2 separate regions of the Homo sapiens genome follow, and region 2 is linked to region 1. A link means that fine-mapping ties the variant in region 1 to the expression of a gene that starts in the linked region. Tissue or cell type: whole blood. Region 1 holds a variant in brackets; the other region holds the start of a gene. All regions are shown on one strand. Distances are between the middles of the regions.

Region 1 (8,349 bases):
TCCAGGACCGGTGACCTCGAACCGGGGCCCAGCAGTTCGCAGATCCTCACCCCGCGATGCTGGGGCCTCACCCACGACCCCAGCCCCCTCCCAGTCGGCACCCAAGCCCACTAAAGACCCCTCTCCGGGGCCGCAAACACAGTCCTCGGGGCCGCCCGGTCGGAGCCGTGTCAGGTGGTGACAGGAGGCGACGGGTGACCATGGCAACCCGAGGTGTGCAGCGGACCGACCCAGCCTCCGACTCCCGGAGTCACCCACCTGAGGGCTCCAGGGCAAGCCCGGAGGAGCGGCGGAGGAGAACGCGGCTGGGAGGCCGGCGGCCAGGGCCCCGAAGCGGCCGGCTCCGGGCTGCGGCAGGAGCACGACGGCGGCGGTCTGGGTTTGGCGTCGGTCCTCCCTCCTACCGCCCGCGCGTCAATCCATCAGTTCGTCAATCCGTCCTTCTCACGTCCGCCCCTCCCGGCCCAGCGACTCCTCAGCTCAGCCTCTTGCAGACTGCGGTTGTCAAGTGCCGGGGAGCCGAGCTCTACCCGCGAGCGGCAGCCAATCGCCGCGCTTCCCCGAGGCGCCTCAGGACCCCGCCGCGCGGGGCGGCCAGGCAGGTGCCTGAGCCGAAGGGCGAGTCGGCGGGGCGGGGCGGGGCGGGGAGGGGCGTGGAGGGGCGGGCCCAAAGCTGGGGCGGGGAGGGGCGGGGCGGACCAAAGCCTGGGCGGGGCGGACCAAAGCCTGGGCGGGGCGGGCGGGGGTCGGGCTTGGAGGGACCGGCTAGGGGCCCGGGGGAGTAGCAGAACGGGTGCGGCAATAGCGTGAGACTGGTGGCAGGGACGTAGACCCTTAGCTGGCCGGTGACCCCATGTCCCAAAATAGCACGAACAGGATTGTCGCCTGCAAATGGAGAAGACTGCGCATTAGGATTGACTCTTCATACTCCTCCCCGATAATTAATAAAGGTTAATGAAATTAATGTTGCCTTCTACCCTTCTTTCGCTGCTTTCCTAGGTCCCACTTCGTCCCAGAAAACTCCAGTAGTTTGTTTGTCCCCTTCCTGGTTTCTCATTTTGCAAAGCTGATCTGCCTTGAAAGCATTTTTCAGTTACTTAACATTTAATATGTTCAGGTTTTGTCTACTCCTGTTGGTTGTAAGCCCCTTATTCCACAAATATACGTGATGTTCAACCGAGCTTAATTAAGCATCCAGGAAGTATAACCATAAGGAAGAATACAATTACACAAACCTGTAAGAACATCATTCTCGGCCAGGCGCGGTGGCTCACGCCTGCAATTCCAGCACTTTAGGAGGCCGAGGCGGGCGGATCACCTGAGGTCAGGAGTTTGAGACCAGCCTGGCCAACATGGTGAAACCCCGTCTCTACTAAAAATACAAAAATTAGCCGGGTGTGCTGGCAAGCCTCCTGTAATCACAGCTACTTGGTAGGCTGAGGCAGGAGAATCGCTTCAACCTGGGAGACGGAGGTTGCAGTGAGCCGAGATCATGCCACTGCACTCCGGCCTGGGTGACAGAGCGAGAGACTCCGTCTCACAGAAAAAAGAACATCATCCTCACAGAGGCGAAAGTCCAGAGTGAGCTGGACCTCCCAAAAGGGGAAAATGGGGTAACAGTCTGGTAAAGAGAATAAACATCAAAAATATTTCTGGCACTCCCATGCTTATTGCAGTACTATTCACAATAGCCAAAATATAGAATCAACCTATGTCAATCAACAGACAAATGGATAAAGAAAATGTGGTACATATACACAATGCAATCTTTTTTTTTTTTTTTTTTTTTTGAGACGGAGTCTCGCTCTGTCGCCCAGGCTGGAGTGCAGTGGCGCCATCTCGACTCACTGCAAACTCCGCCTCCCGGGTTCACGCCATTCTCCTGCCTCAGCCTCCCGCGTAGCTGGGACTACAGGCGCCCGCCACCAGGTCCGGCTAATTTTTTTTTTTTTTTTTGTATTTTTATTAGAAACGGGGTTTCACCGTGTTAGCCAGGATGGTCTTGATCTCCTGACCTCGTGATCCACCCGCCTCGGCCTCCCAAAGTGCTGGGATTACAGGCGTGAGCCACCGCGCCCGGCCACACAATACAATCTTATTCACCCATTAAGAAAGAATGAAATCCTGTCATTTGCAGCAACATGGATGGGACGGGAGGACATTATGTTAAGTGAAACAAGACAAGCACAAAAAGACAAATATTGCACGTTCTCACACATATGTGGGAACTAAAAGAATTGATCTCGTGGAGGTAGTGAATAGAATGGTGGTTACCAGAGGCTAGAAAGTGTAGTGGAGGGCAAAGGGGGGATAAAGAGGTTAATGGGTACAAAAATACAGTTATGTAGCAGGAATAAATTCTAGTGCTCAATAGCATAATTGGGTGACTATAGTTAACAATAATCTATTCTATATTTCCAAACAGCTAGAAGAGAAGATTCAGAATGTTCCCAACACAAAGAAATAGTAAATGGCAGGCCAAGCGTGGTGGCTTATGCCTGTAATCTCAGCACTTTGGGAGGCCGAGGCGGGCAGATCACGAGGTCAAGAGGTCAAGAGATCGAGACCATCCTGGCCAACATGGTGAAACCCTGTCTCTACTAAAAATACAAAAATTAGCCGAGTGTGGTGGTGTGCGCCTGTAGTCCCAGCTACTCGGGAGTCTGAGGCAGGAGAATCACTTGAACCCGGGAGGCGGAGGTTGCAGTGAGCCGAGATTGGGCCACTGCACTCCAGCCTGGTGACAGAGCGAGACCGCGTCTCAAAAAAAAAGAAAAGAAATAATAAATGGGTGGGCACAGTGGCTCATGCCTGAAATCCCAGCACTTTGGGAGGCTTAGGCCAGAGGCTCACATGAGGCCATGAGTTAGAGACTAGCCTAGGCAACATAGTGAGACTCCCTCTCTACAAAAACAAGAATAAAAAATTAGACACGGTGAGACACACCTGCAGTCCTAGCTACTTGAGAGGCTGAAGTGAGAAGATAGTTTGAGCTCAAAGTCCGAGGCTACCATGAGCTATAATCACACTACTGCACTCCAGCCTGGGTGACTGAGTAAGACCCTGTGTCTTAATAATAATAATGCATTTCTAAGGTGATGGATATCCCAATTACCCAGATTTGATCATTACACATTGTATTTACTCCAGAAATATCTACAACTATTATGTAACTATAAAAATTAAAAATAAACAAAATTTAAACCATATTTCTGGGAATACAAAATCTTGTCCAGTTCAAGATAAAAGAAGCGAGAGCTTGAAGATACACATTTCTTTTTTTTCTTTTCTTTTCTTTTTTTCCTTTTTTTTTTTTTTTTTTTGAGATGGGGTCTCACTGTGTCGCCCAGGCTGGAGTGCAGTGGTGCGATCTTGGCACTCTGAACCTCCTCCTCCTGGGTTCAAGCGACTCTCCTGCATCAGCCCCCAGAGTAGCTGGGACTACAGCATACACCACCATGCCCAGCTAGTTTTTGTATTTTTAGTAGAGACAGGGTTTCACCATGTTGGTCAGGCTGGTCTCGACCTCGTGATCCGCCTGCCTGCCTTGGCCTCCCAAAGTCCTGGGGATTACAGGCATAAGCCACTGTGCCTGGCTTTCTTTTTTTTTTGAGACGGAGTCACTCTGTCACCCAGGCTGGAGTACATGGCGCAATCTCAGCTCACTGCAACCTCTGCCTCCTGGGTTCAAGCAATTCTGCCTCAGCCCCCTGAGTAGCTGAGATTACAGGCAGGTGCCACCACACTCAGCTAATTTGTGTGCCACCACACTCGGCTAATTTTTGTATTTTTAGTAGAGACGAAGTTTCACCATGTTGGCCAGGCTGGTCTCAAACCCCTGACCTCAAGTGATCCTCCCGCCATGGCCTCCCAAAGTGCTGGGATTACAGGCATGAGCTACTGCACCCAGCCGAGGAAACATTTCTAAGAAAAATACTTATGCATTCAGAGAAAACAACACACAAAAGCTGAACTACAAAATTTCAATTGCCTAGTCAGTAACTCCTGGAAGAAAGTCTTCATTATGAACCCTCTTAATGATAAGTGACAGGCAAATAAATATAAACATAATTGAATGTTACCCAGGATCTTGATATTGAAAACAAAACAAGCAAACAAACAACACATTACAGAGTGTTTAAATTGAAAAAGTAGGCAGATACGTTTTTCCTGAAAGTAGTATCTCAATTATTTTGCTAGTATAGTTCATCTAAGAAACCACTTCTAAATCTTTATGATCAAACAAGAAGTTTTGAGAACCAGTATCCTTTTTTTTTTAACTTCATTTTTTATCCCATTTCCCA[C/T]ATTTTTATCAGTTAGAACCTTTTCCCCATGGACCCATATTCTGAAACTTTAGGAATTAATTACATTTTCTTTCTTTTTTTTTTTTTTTGTTTTTTGAGACAGTATTGCTCTGTCGCCCAGGCTGGAGTGCAGTGGGGCGATCTCAGCTCACTGCAACCTCTGCCTCCCGGGTTCAAGCAATTCTCCTTTCTCAGCCTCCCGAATAGATGGGATTACAGGCCCATGCCACCACACCCAACTAATTTTTGTATTTTTAGTAGAGAATGGGTATAACCATGTTGGCCAGGTTGGTCTCGAACTCCTGACCTCAAGTGATCCATCCACCTCAGTCTCCCAAAGTGCTGGGATTACAGATGTGAGCCACCGTGCCCAGCTAGGAATTAATTACATTTATTAACAAATCGTTAATAATTAATTATTGGGTCAGAATCATAGAATTCTAGAGGGTTTTTGTTTGTTTGTTTGTTTGTTTTTTGTGACAGTGTCTCACTCTGTCGCCCAGGCTGGAGTGTAGTAGGGCAGTCATGGCTCTCTGCAGCCTAGAACTCCTGGGCTCAAGCGATCCTTCCACCTCCGCTTCCCCAGCCCAGTAGCTGAGACTACAGGTGCAAGCCACCATGCCTGGCTAATTTTTTTTTTTTTTTTTTTTAAGTAGAGACAGGGTTTTGCCTTGTTGCCCAGGCTGGTGCTAAAATGATCCTTTCCCCTTGGCCTCCCGAAGAGCTAGGATTACAGGCATGAACCATCGTGCCCAGCCCAGCATCCTTTAAATATTTAAATCTTCTACTAGCTCTAGAAAGAGTAACTAATCAGGGACAATCTGACAAACAACCGATCACCTGCTAGGGAGAGTGCTTGAAAAACAGAAGAACCACTCAGTCCAACGGGCAGGAGACACTTCTGGAAGGAACACCATGATGGCTGCCCAGGGAGAGCCCCAGGTCTAGTTCAAACTTGTATTGGTTGGTGGCGGTGGTACTGGAAAAACTACTTTGGTGAAACATCATTTGACTGGTGAATTTGAGAGGTATGTAGCCACATTTGAGAGGTATGGGTGTTGAGGTTCATCACCCAAGTGTTCCACACCAACAGAAGATGTATTAAGTTCAATAAATGGGATACAGCCGGCCAGGAGAAATGTGGTGAACAGAGATGGTTATTACATCGAACCCATAGCCCAGTGTGCCATCATAATGTTTGATGTAACACCAAGAGTTACGTACAAGAATGTGCCTAACTGGCATAGAGATTTGGTGCCAATGTGTGAAATCATCACCATGATGTTGTGTGGCAACAAAGTGGATATTAAGGACAGGTAAGTGAAGGCAAAATCTATTGTCTTCCACCGAAAGAAGAATCTTCAGTACTATGACATTACTGCCAAAACTAACTACAACTTTGAAAAGCCCTTTCTCTGGCTTGCTAGGAAGCTCATTGGAGGCCCTAACTTGGGGTTTGCTACCCTGTACTCCCCTACCTGAGGTTGTCATGGACCCAGCTTTGACAGAGCAATAAGAGCATGAGTTAGAGTTTGCTCAGACAGCTGCTCTCCTGGATGAGGATGATTACCTGTGAGAACAAAGCTGGAGCCCAGTATCAGAAGTATAGTTTTATAGACAGCTTTCCTGTGACGTCAGCAGTGCAAAGTGTGCCTCACCTTGTTATCAAGCTAAGCGGAACATGTGCTTCATCTGTGGGATGCTGAAGGAGATGAATGGGCTTCGGAGTGAATGTGGCAGTTTAAAAAATACCTGTGCCAGGCGCAGTGGCTCATGCCTGTAATCCCAACACTTTGGGAGGCCGAGGTGGGCAGATCACGAGGTCAGGAGTTTGAGACCAGCCTGACCAACATGGTGAAATCCCATCTCTATTAATAATACAAAAATTAGCCAGGCGTGGTGTTAGGCGCCTGTAATCCCAGCTACTCAGGATGCTGAGGCAGGAGAATCGCTTGAACCCGGGAGGCAGAAGTTGCAGTGAGCCGAGATTGCACCACTGCGCTCCAGTTTGGGCAACACAGAGAGACTCTGTCTCAATAATAATAACAATAATAATAATAATAATAATAATAATAATACCTTCATGGCCAGGCGCCATGGCTCACACCTGTAATCCCAGCACTTTGGGAGGCTTAGGCGGGTGGATCATTTGAGGTCAGGAGTTCGAGACCAGCTTGGCCAACGTGATGAGACCCCATCTCTACTAAAAATACAAAAATTAGCTGGGAGTGGTGGTGGGCGCCTGTAATACCAGCTACTCAGAAGGCTGAGGTAGGAGAATTGCTTGAACCTGGGAGGCAGAGATTGCAGCAGTGAGCCGAGATCGTACCACTGCACTCCAGACTGGGAGACAGAGTGAGACTCTGTCTCAAAACAAACAAACAAACAAACAAAACCTTTTTTGGGTGACCTGCATATTTAGCTGTTTTGGAACGCAGTTGATTCCTTCTTGAGTTGCAAATATAAGACTGCCACAGTTACATCAGAAGGAAGGAAGGAAGGAAGGGAGGGAGGGAGGGAGGGAGTGAGGGAGGGAGGGAGGAGGGAAGGAAGGGAAAGAAAAGGAAAGAAGGGAGGGAGGGACGGAGGGGGGAAGGAAGGGAAAGAAAAGGAAGGAAGGAAGGAGAGAAGGAAGGAAGGAAGGAAAGAAGGAAGGGAAAGAAAAGAAAGGAAGGAAGGAAGGAAAACCCCAGTGAAGTATTAGATTGGCTTTGGCATTCATTGAACACAAAATGAAATGCTTTGCTTATGTTCTCATTTAAGCCTCATAATCTCCCTTAAAACACCTATTAATTATTCCTATTTGAGTGATTAAAGAAAATAACTTGCCCAAGGTCACACAGCTAGTATGTAGCAGAGACATTCTGACTCTTAAAACTTTCTTTTTCTATTCTACCACATTAGTATGATTTCTTATCTTTGAGAGGGAGTCTCACCTAGGCTGAAGTGCAGTGGTGCAATCTCACCTCACTTCGAGCTCTCCCTCCCTGGTTCAAGCGATTGTCCTGCCTCAGCCTCCCAAGTAGCTAGGATTACAGGCGTGCACCACCACACCCAGCTAATTTTTTGTATTTTTAGTAGAGACGGGGTCTTACTGTGTTGGCCAGGCTGGTCTCAAACTCCTGACCTCAAGTGATCTGCCAGCCTCACCCTCCAAAGTGCTGGGATTAGAGGCATCAGCCGCCGTGCCCTGCCTCATTCTACATTATATTAACTGAAAATTTTATTTTAGTATTTATTTATTTATTTAAGAGACAGAGTCTCACTTTCTCACCCAGGCTAAAGTGTCACCTAGGCTGGAGTATAGTGGCATGATTATAGCTCACCACAGTCTCAAACTCCTGGGCTCAAACTATCCTCTAGCCTCAGCTTCTTGAGTAGCTGGGATTACAGGCATGAGCCACCTTGCCTGGCTAATTGTTCTAAGAAATTTTGAGCCAGATGGCCGGGCACGGTGGCTCATGCCTGTAATCCCAGCACTTTGGGAGGCCGAGGCGGGTGGATCACAAGGTCAGGAGATTGAGACCATCCTGGCTAACGTGGTGAAACCCCGTCTCTACTAAAAATACAAAAAGTTAGCTGGGCATGGTGGCAGGTGCCTGTAGTCCCAATTACTCGAGAGGCTGAGGCAGGAGAATGGCGTGAACCTGGGAGGCGGCGGAGCCTGCAGTGAGCTGAGATGGCGCCACTGCACACCAGCCTGGGCGACAGGGCGAGACTCCATCTCAAAAAAAAAAGAAATTTTGGGCCAGACACAGTGGCTCATGCCCGTAATCCCAGCACTTTGGGAGGCCAAGGTGGGAGGATCCCTTGAGCCCAGGAGTTCGAGACCAGCCTGGGCAACATAGTGGGACCCCATCTCAACTAAAAATAAAAATAAAAAAAATAGCCTGCCATGGTAACACGTTATCCCAACTACTGGAGAGACTGAGGCAGGAGGATCGCTTGAGTCTGGAAGGTCAAGGATTGCAGTGACCCATGATTGTGTCACTGCACTCCCTCTCAAAGTGCTGGGATTATAGGCTTAAGCCACCATGCTCAGCCA
Region 2 (8,000 bases), 31 kb after region 1:
GGGTTCAAGCGAGCACGTCTGGTTAATTTTTGTATTTTTAGTAGAGACGGGGTTTCATCATGTTGGCCAGGCTGGTCTCGAACTCCTGACCTCCAGTGATCCACCCGCCTCAGTCTCCCAAAGTGCTGGGATTACAGACGTGAGCCACTGCACCCAGCTGTTCACCACCTTCTTACTTTGTTCAGGGCCTTAGTCCAAAGCCCAAGCCCCAACTCACTTGCTACTCTCCCTCAACACCTGTTGCAGGATCCATTATTACCTGTGGCTTACAGTCAAAGAAGCCTCTCTACTGCTGTAAAGGCAAGAGGAAAACTAATGGAGGTATGTTCTTCTGCCCTAAATTAAAACACTAATTACATTTGCTCACTTAAAAAGCAATTTATAGGCCGGGTGCAGTGGCTCACGCCTGTAATCCCAGCACTTTGGGAGGCCGAGGCAGGCGGATCACAAGGTCAGGAGATCGAGATCATCCTGGCTAACACAGTGAAACCCCGTCTCTACAAAAAATACAAAAAAAGCTCTCCCTCCCCCTCCCCCTCGTCTGCGTCTCCCGCTTTCCACCGTCTCCCTCTGTTGCCGAGGCTGGACTGTACTGCAGCGATCTGGGATCGTTGCAGCCTCCCTGCCTGACTACAGGCGTGCGCCGCCACGCCTGACTGGTTTTTGTATTTTTTGGTGGAGACGGGGTTTCGCCGTGTTGGCCGGGCTGGTCTCCGCTCCTGACCTCGAGTGATCTGCCCGCCTCGGCCTCCCGAGGTGCCGGGATTCCAGACGGAGTCTCGCTCACTCAGTGCTCAATGCTGCCCAGGCTGGAGTGCAGTGGCGTGATCTCGGCTCGCTACAACCTCCACCTCCCAGCTGCCTGCCTTGGCCTCCCAAAGTGCTGAGATTGCAGCCTCTGCCCGGCTGCCACCCCGTCTAGGAATTGAGGAGCGTCTCTGCCTGGCTGCCCATCCCCTGGGATGTGGGGAAGCACCTCTGCCCGGCCGCCCCGTCTGGGATGTGAGGAGCGCCTCTGCTCGGCCGCTACTCCGTCTGGGAGGTGAGGAGCACCGCTGCCCGGCCGCCACCCCGTCTGGGAGGTGAGGAGCGCCTCTGCCCGGCCACGACCCCGTCTGGGAACTGAGGAGCGCCTCCGCCAGGCCGCCCGCATCTGGGAAGTAAGGAGCCCCTCTGCCCTGCCGCCACCCTGTCTGGGAGGTGTACCCAACAGTTCATTGAGAACGGGCCATGATGACGATGGCGGTTTTGTCGAATAGAAAACGGGGAAATGTGGGGAAAAGAAAGAGAGATCAGATTGTTACTGTGTCTGTGTAGAAAGAAGTAGACATAGGAGACTCCATTTTGTTCTGTACTAAGAAAAATTCTTCTGCCTTGGGATGCTATTAATCTATAACCTTACCCCCAACCCCGTGCTCTCTGAAACATGTGCTGTGTCCCCTCAGGGTTAAATGGATTAAGGGCGGTGCAAGATGTGCTTTGTTAAACAGATGCTTGAAGGCAGCATGCTCGTTAAGAGTCATCACCACTCCCTAATCTCAAGTACCCAGGGACACAAAACACTGAGGAAGGCCGCAGGGTCCTCTGCCTAGGAAAACCAGAGACCCTTGTTCACATGTTTATCTGCTGACCTTCTCTCCACTATTGTCCTATGACCCCGCCAAATACCCCTCTCTGAGAAACACCCAAGAATGATCAATAAATACTAAAAAAATTAAAAAAATAAAATAAAGCAAAATAAAAACACACAAAAAAAATTAGGTGGGCGTGGTGGCCGGCGCCAGTAGTCCCAGCTACTCAGGAGGCTGAGGCAGGAGAATGGCATGAACCCGGGAGGCGGAGCTTGCAGTGAGCAGAGATTGCGCCACTGCACTCCAGCCTGGGCGACAGAGCGAGACTCCGTCTCAAAAAAAAAAAAAAAGCAATTTATACACACACACACAATTGGGGTTAGGATTGGTACTATCTGATTCAAAAGTTAAACAGAATTTGATAGGCTAGTCTGAGAATATTATCCCTACAGGGAAACATTCAAAGCAATAAAGCTACTTTGAAAGGACATGTCCAAAAGTTTTCATCATCTATAACAAAATCATTGTCAAATACTACTTACATTCTTTAGAAAAAAGTCTCTTTCTTTTACCCTGTCCACCTTCTGCACCTCCTCCAATTTCTTCATTTTCTTCCTCAAACTAGAAGTTAAAATGTATATATAGAAATGTCAAATAATTGCCTTGCATTTGATATTTTAATAATGACATTTTTTTTTCCTTTTCAACAGATAGGCCAGAAAGCCAAAGGAAGCAGCAAAAAAAAAAACCACGAAACCTTAGCATTGAAGGAGCCTATGTATCTAGTCCAACTTCCAACTCATGCAAAAATGGCTTCTACAATGTTCCTAACTAATAATCCTACTGCTTCTACTTGTAAGAGTTCCAATGACCATAAGTTTTATTTTTAAACAACTAAGGTGGCCTATTACTACTGTTACTGTTAAACAGTTGATACTGAATCAAAGTCTACCTTTGTAGACTTTGTAGTAAGCAAAACTAATATTTCCTATGCATTTGCTTATACAGTGCTAAAAACGTTCCTTAAGTAAGCCCGTAACCCTATTTTATAAAAAGAAAACTGATGTTCAAAGTTAAATAACTTGCTCAGAGAGAATGGAAATTTTGAAATCCAGGCTGTCTGACTTTCAATGCATTCTTTTCCCATTACTTCACAGTAAGTACAGTTTTGTTAACAATTGAACTGTTGGCTCATAGTGCGCGCTAATAGATGTTAGTTTTGATCTCTGATGATTCTGTACGTGTTTCAGTGTCTGGCAAATACAGACCAAAATCAAGGGGAAAGGGGTCACAAAACCTACTCTTCCTTCATGTCCTTCCCCACTTTCTAAAATGATCAATCCTTAGGGCGTGAAGTCCCCGAACTCTGTCCGCTGAATTCACTAAGGCAAGCAGACCCGATCCTGAACTCTGCCTCCGCTACTGAGCCCGAAGGAGTGAAGAAAAGACAGGTTTTGGACAGAGACGGTCACTCACCGTGGGGTCTTCTTCCTCATCTGCCATCCCACTAGCACGCCAACTCACAGCGTCCTGCCGGCTGGCTCCCAGCTGGTTACACTACTTCCGCCGCCTCACTTCCGGTGACGCGCGGGGCCGTAGCTGGGCCTAGCCCTCTGCGGCCTGCGGGAGGACGGTGGTGCTTTCCGGCCTAGCGGCGGAAATGCGACAGTCTCTAAGGGAGGAGGCCGGAGCGCCTCCCTGTAATCCCGAAGGAATTGAAAACTAACAAAGAAAAGGAAATCACGGGCTAGGTCGCGAGTATCTCGTTGTCACCCTGAATTTGCTACTGCGTATTGAATCACAGCTTCTTGTTTGGGGACTGCGAAGCTATGGATCATAGGAGGGCAAGCCAGCAGTCCTTTATCAGACAAATATGCTTTTAAATCATTTTAAAGATTTGTAGTTCCACTGTTTCTAAGCACTGTGTTAATTATTGGGGATACTGTGCTTCATCACAAATTTCCAAGAGATGGTGTCCCGAGACTAAGCATTTAAAATTTTGTGAAGGTTTTTTGATTTTTTTTTTTTTTTTTTTTGAGACGAAGTCTCACTCTGTCGCCCAGGCTGAAGTGTGCAGTGGCGCGATCCCGGCCCACTGCAACCTCTGCCTCCCGGGCTCAAGTGATTCTCCTTCCTCAGCCTCCCGAGTAGCTGGGATTACAGGCGTGCGCCACCATGCCCGGCCTTATTTTTGTTTTTTTGAGACACAACCTCACTGTCCCCCGGGATGGAGTGAAGTGGCGCAATCAGGGTTCACTGCAGCCTAGACCTGCTGGGCTCAAGCCATCCTCCCACCTCAGCCTCCAAGTAGCTGGGATTACAGGCGCACACCACCAATGCCCAGCTAATTTTTGTATTTTTAGTAGAGATGGGGTTTCCCCACATTGCCCAGGCTGGTCTGGAACTCATGGCCTCAAGCGATCTGCCCCGCTCTGCCTCCCAAAGTGCTGGGATTACAAGTGTGAGCCACCGTGTCCACCGGGGAAGGCTTTTGGTCAGAACAATGGCTGGCAAAACCACAGGCATCGGAAGGCCAGAGCTAGGGATATAATATAAATGTCCCTACAGTGTAACAGATGATGCTACATAAAGAAAATCCCGTAATACACACGATTTCTGAATGTCCTGCTGAACATTCGGTGAGTGAAAACTAATTATCTGAGAGTTGAACCTATCTTTGTTAATAAACACAAAGCGGCCGGGCGCAGTGGCTCACGCCTGTAATCCCAGCACTTTGGGAGGCCGAGGTGGGCGGATCACAAAGTCAGGAGATCAAGACCATCCTGGCCAACATGATGAAACCCCGTCTCTATTAAAAGTACAAAAATTAGCTGGGCGTAGTGGCGCACGCCTGTAATCCCAGCTACTCGGGAGGCTGAGGCAGGAGAATCGCTTGAACCCGGGAGGCAGAGGTTGCAGTGAGCCGGGATTGTGCCACTGCACTCCAGCCTGGTGACAGAGCGGGACTCCACCTCAAAAAATAAAAATTAAAAAAATAAACACAAAGCATTTTCCCACACTTTTAATGTACGTTGAAGTTTCTAGGAATGTTATTACCCCAAAATTGAATAGTAATTGTATTTTGTTTGGTCTGGAATTCATTAAGAGCTGTGTACCATTTCAAGAAATAACGTCACCAAAAGCAACATCACTTGTAATAATTTGAATAGTGAATAATGAAAAAATAACTTTGATTTGAGGAATGTGAGTTAAATTATTAGGCCCAAAGAGGCATTAAAATGAGAGGCAATCACATCCTGCTTGCCCCCTTTTGAGCTATGTATTTATGTCTTAAAACCGCTTGCTATTGCCACAAGTATTAGTTATAAATTAGCCTAATTATGCCCCATCAGACACCATATCGCACACCCTATAGCTTGATAATGTTTAGCCAATTACTAATCAATGTTATTTTTGTGAACCAATGAGAACTCCTTAAAGACAACTTTGTATCAGCCCACTCCCTGTCCTCATTCTTTTCCTTTAAAAATCCACTTGTACCTGCTGCTAATCTTAGAGTGTATATTCTAGGCAACTTTATGCTGCTGAGTTGTAATCCTCAAGTTTGGCCCAAATAAACTCTCTATTTATATTAATTTTGCCTCAGCTTCTTCCTTTTAGGTCGACAATACTCACCCAAATCAGTCTGCATTCAAAGCAATTCTACATATAGGTAGAAGCATCTGAAATCTTCATTATCCCCCCCTAGTGCCATCATACCTGAGTATTTATATATTGAAACAAATGTTACTATTTTTACTTTACTTTTATATTACCTTTATGCCTGACCTCCTGGCCACTGGATCACTGGATCCTGTTAGGATATTATGTTATTTTCAAAATTATGTGAGTAGGTAGATATATTAGTTATTTATTGCTGTAACAAATTACCCCAAAACTTAGTGGCTTAAAACAAATATCACACAGTTTCTGTGGGTCAGCAATGTGGGTGCAATTTAACTGGGTGCCTGTGGCTCAAGGTCCCTCCTGTTGCAGTCGGGATGTTGGCTGGGGCTGCAGTCATACCTCAAGTGTTGATGGAGGAGAATTTGCCAGAGTCACTCACAGGTTGCTGGAGGTTTCACTTCCTCCAGGTTGTTGGACTAAGGGCCTCAGTTCTTTAATGGATGTTGCCCAGAGGTCTCCCTCAGTTCCTTGCCATGTAATCCACTCCATAGGGCAGCTCACAATGTGCCAGTTGCCTTCCTCCAGAGGACACAAGTGGGAGAACCCAAAAGACAGAAATCACAGGTTTTTTGTTACCTAATTTTGGAAGTGACATCCTATAATTTCTGCCCTATTCTATTCACTAGAAGTAAGTAAAAAAGTGCAGCTAGGGCTGGGCGCAGTGGCTCACACCTGTAATCCCAGCACTTTGGGAGGCCGAGGTGGGCGGATCAGGAGGTCAGGAGTTTGAGACCAGCCTGGCCAACATGGTGAAACCCTGTCTCTACTAAAAATACAAAAATTAGCCGGGTGTGGTGATGCACACCTGTAATCCTAGCTACTCAGGAGGCTGAGACAGGAGAATTGCTTGAACCCGGGAGGCGGAGGTTGCAGTGAGCTGAGATGGTGCCACTGCACTCCAGCCTGGCCGACAAAGCAAGACTCCATCTCAGAAAAAAAAAAAAAAAGTGCAGCCCAAGTTCAAGGAGAGGGGATTACATAAGGGCAAGAATATTGCTGGGGAGATCACTGGGGGCTTTCTGAGAGGTCACCTACCACAGTAAATTATATTATTTTTGAATTTCACTACACAATAATGGAGACACTGTATTTGTTATTAATATTTAAAGGAGATTGTTGAGCCTGATAGGTTTGAGAACTGCTTTTAGGTAGTGATCCAGTGTCCAGGAGGTCAGGCATAAAACATTCATAGTGTCTGTTATCAGTGGAGTAGATAGGTAAAATATGCTGGATGCACAGCACGGAGTACAATGCAGCAATCAGAAGCAATAGATTTAGCAACATGGACAGAACTTGAAAACAGTGCTAAGTTAAAAAAGAAACAATAAAATCTATAATATAATACCATTTATAGAAATTAAAAATACTACTTATTTTAAAGGAAAATATAAAAAAGCGTAAACATTAAACACACTAGAAAGTTGCAGTGTAGGAGAAATGGGAATAAGGATAAAAGGAATAAATTGATAAATAAAAAGTGAAGGACTTTGGAAGGGCCAATTGTAATACTATGCCATGAGCTGCGGCATGTGAATAATTCAATCCTGTGAACCTGAGATCCAAAACACAAAGTGGGGGAAAAAAAATTGCAGTGTCAGTCCAGGCGTGGTGGCTCACGCCTATAATCCCTGCACTTTGGGAGGCCGAGGCGGGCGGATCACGAGGTCAGGAGATTGAGACCATCCTGGCTAACACAGTGAAACCCTGTCTCTACTAAAAAAAATACAAAAAATTAGCCGGGCGTGGTGTCGGGCGCCTGTAGTTCCACCTACTTGGGAGGCTGAGGCAGGAGAATGGCATGAACCCGGGAGGCGGAGCTTGCAGTGAGCCGAGATCGCGCCGCTGTACTCCAGCCTGGGCAACAGAGCAAGCCTCCGTCTCAAAAAAAAAAAAAATTGCAGTGTGATAAGCAGAGCAGAAGGAAAACACAGAGTAAAAAGTCATGGTGTGCTTCTACAAGATGTTCTCTGTGGGTTGCCAGAGCCAAGTTTTTTGGGTGGGGATGCAGGAAACGAGGCTGGAATTTGCGTGTGAAAGGCCTTAAATGTTCTCTTCAGAGACTGAACTTCAAACTACAGAGTTCTTGGGAAGTCTTTAAACAGATGTGTCACATGACTTTACAGTTTTTAAAAAGATCACTTTTGCGGGGAAACTAGGATGAGAGATGATTATAATCTGAATTAAGGCAAAGAGGAAGAAGGAACTGATTTAACACAAACTTTACGAGACAATTTACAGGACTTTGTGACAATGAATGTGAAAGCTATTGACAGAAGAATGGAATGCTATTAATATAAATAGGAAAGAAAAAGGGGAAAGAAGTTGGAAGTGGAAGGAAATGAGTTTAGTCTGTGTTTGAGAGTCTGGAGATGTACTAAAACTGATGGAAATCCAGGCCAGGAATTACAGGCCCGGAAATCCACAGAAAAATTAGTACTAGAAGCCGGGTGTGGTGGCTCACGCATGTAATCCTAGCACTTTGGGAGGCCAAGGTGGGTGGACTCCCTGAGCTCAGGAGTTCGAGACCAGCCTGGGCAACATGGTGAAACCCTGTCTCTACTAAAACACACACACACAAAAAGAAAGAAAGAAAGAAAGAAAAATTAGTACTAGAGAAAATGACATGGGAGATACCATCACAAAGTGATAGTCTAGAGATTGCACGGAAACAAAGGCTGAGAGAATAGAGGCAAAGGGCACAGCCTTAGAAACAGTACATCAAGGAGACAGAGTGACAGAAGG

The links. PIP is the estimated chance that this variant, and not a neighbour inherited with it, causes the effect.
Region 2: it holds the start of TAF13, and the variant in region 1 is fine-mapped to the expression of TAF13 in whole blood (INTERVAL, PIP above 0.99).

The regions. Positions count from the first base shown.
Region 1 is chr1:109,041,604-109,049,952 of GRCh38, forward strand. WDR47 (WD repeat domain 47) reads right to left here and starts at 499. Exons shown (of 15, transcript NM_001142551.2): 1 at 259-499. It also overlaps the pseudogene RANP5. RefSeq lists silencers at 147-696, 4,523-4,802. The variant C/T (reference allele first, on the strand shown) is at 4,305.
Region 2 is chr1:109,072,874-109,080,873 of GRCh38, forward strand. It overlaps TAF13 (TATA-box binding protein associated factor 13), which reads right to left and starts at 3,130. Exons shown (of 4, transcript NM_005645.4): 1 at 3,048-3,130; 2 at 2,114-2,192. The coding sequence starts at 3,074. TMEM167B-DT (TMEM167B divergent transcript) reads right to left here. Exons shown (of 2, transcript XR_947688.3): 2 at 5,419-5,773. RefSeq lists enhancers at 1,387-2,373, 2,978-3,037, 3,138-3,387.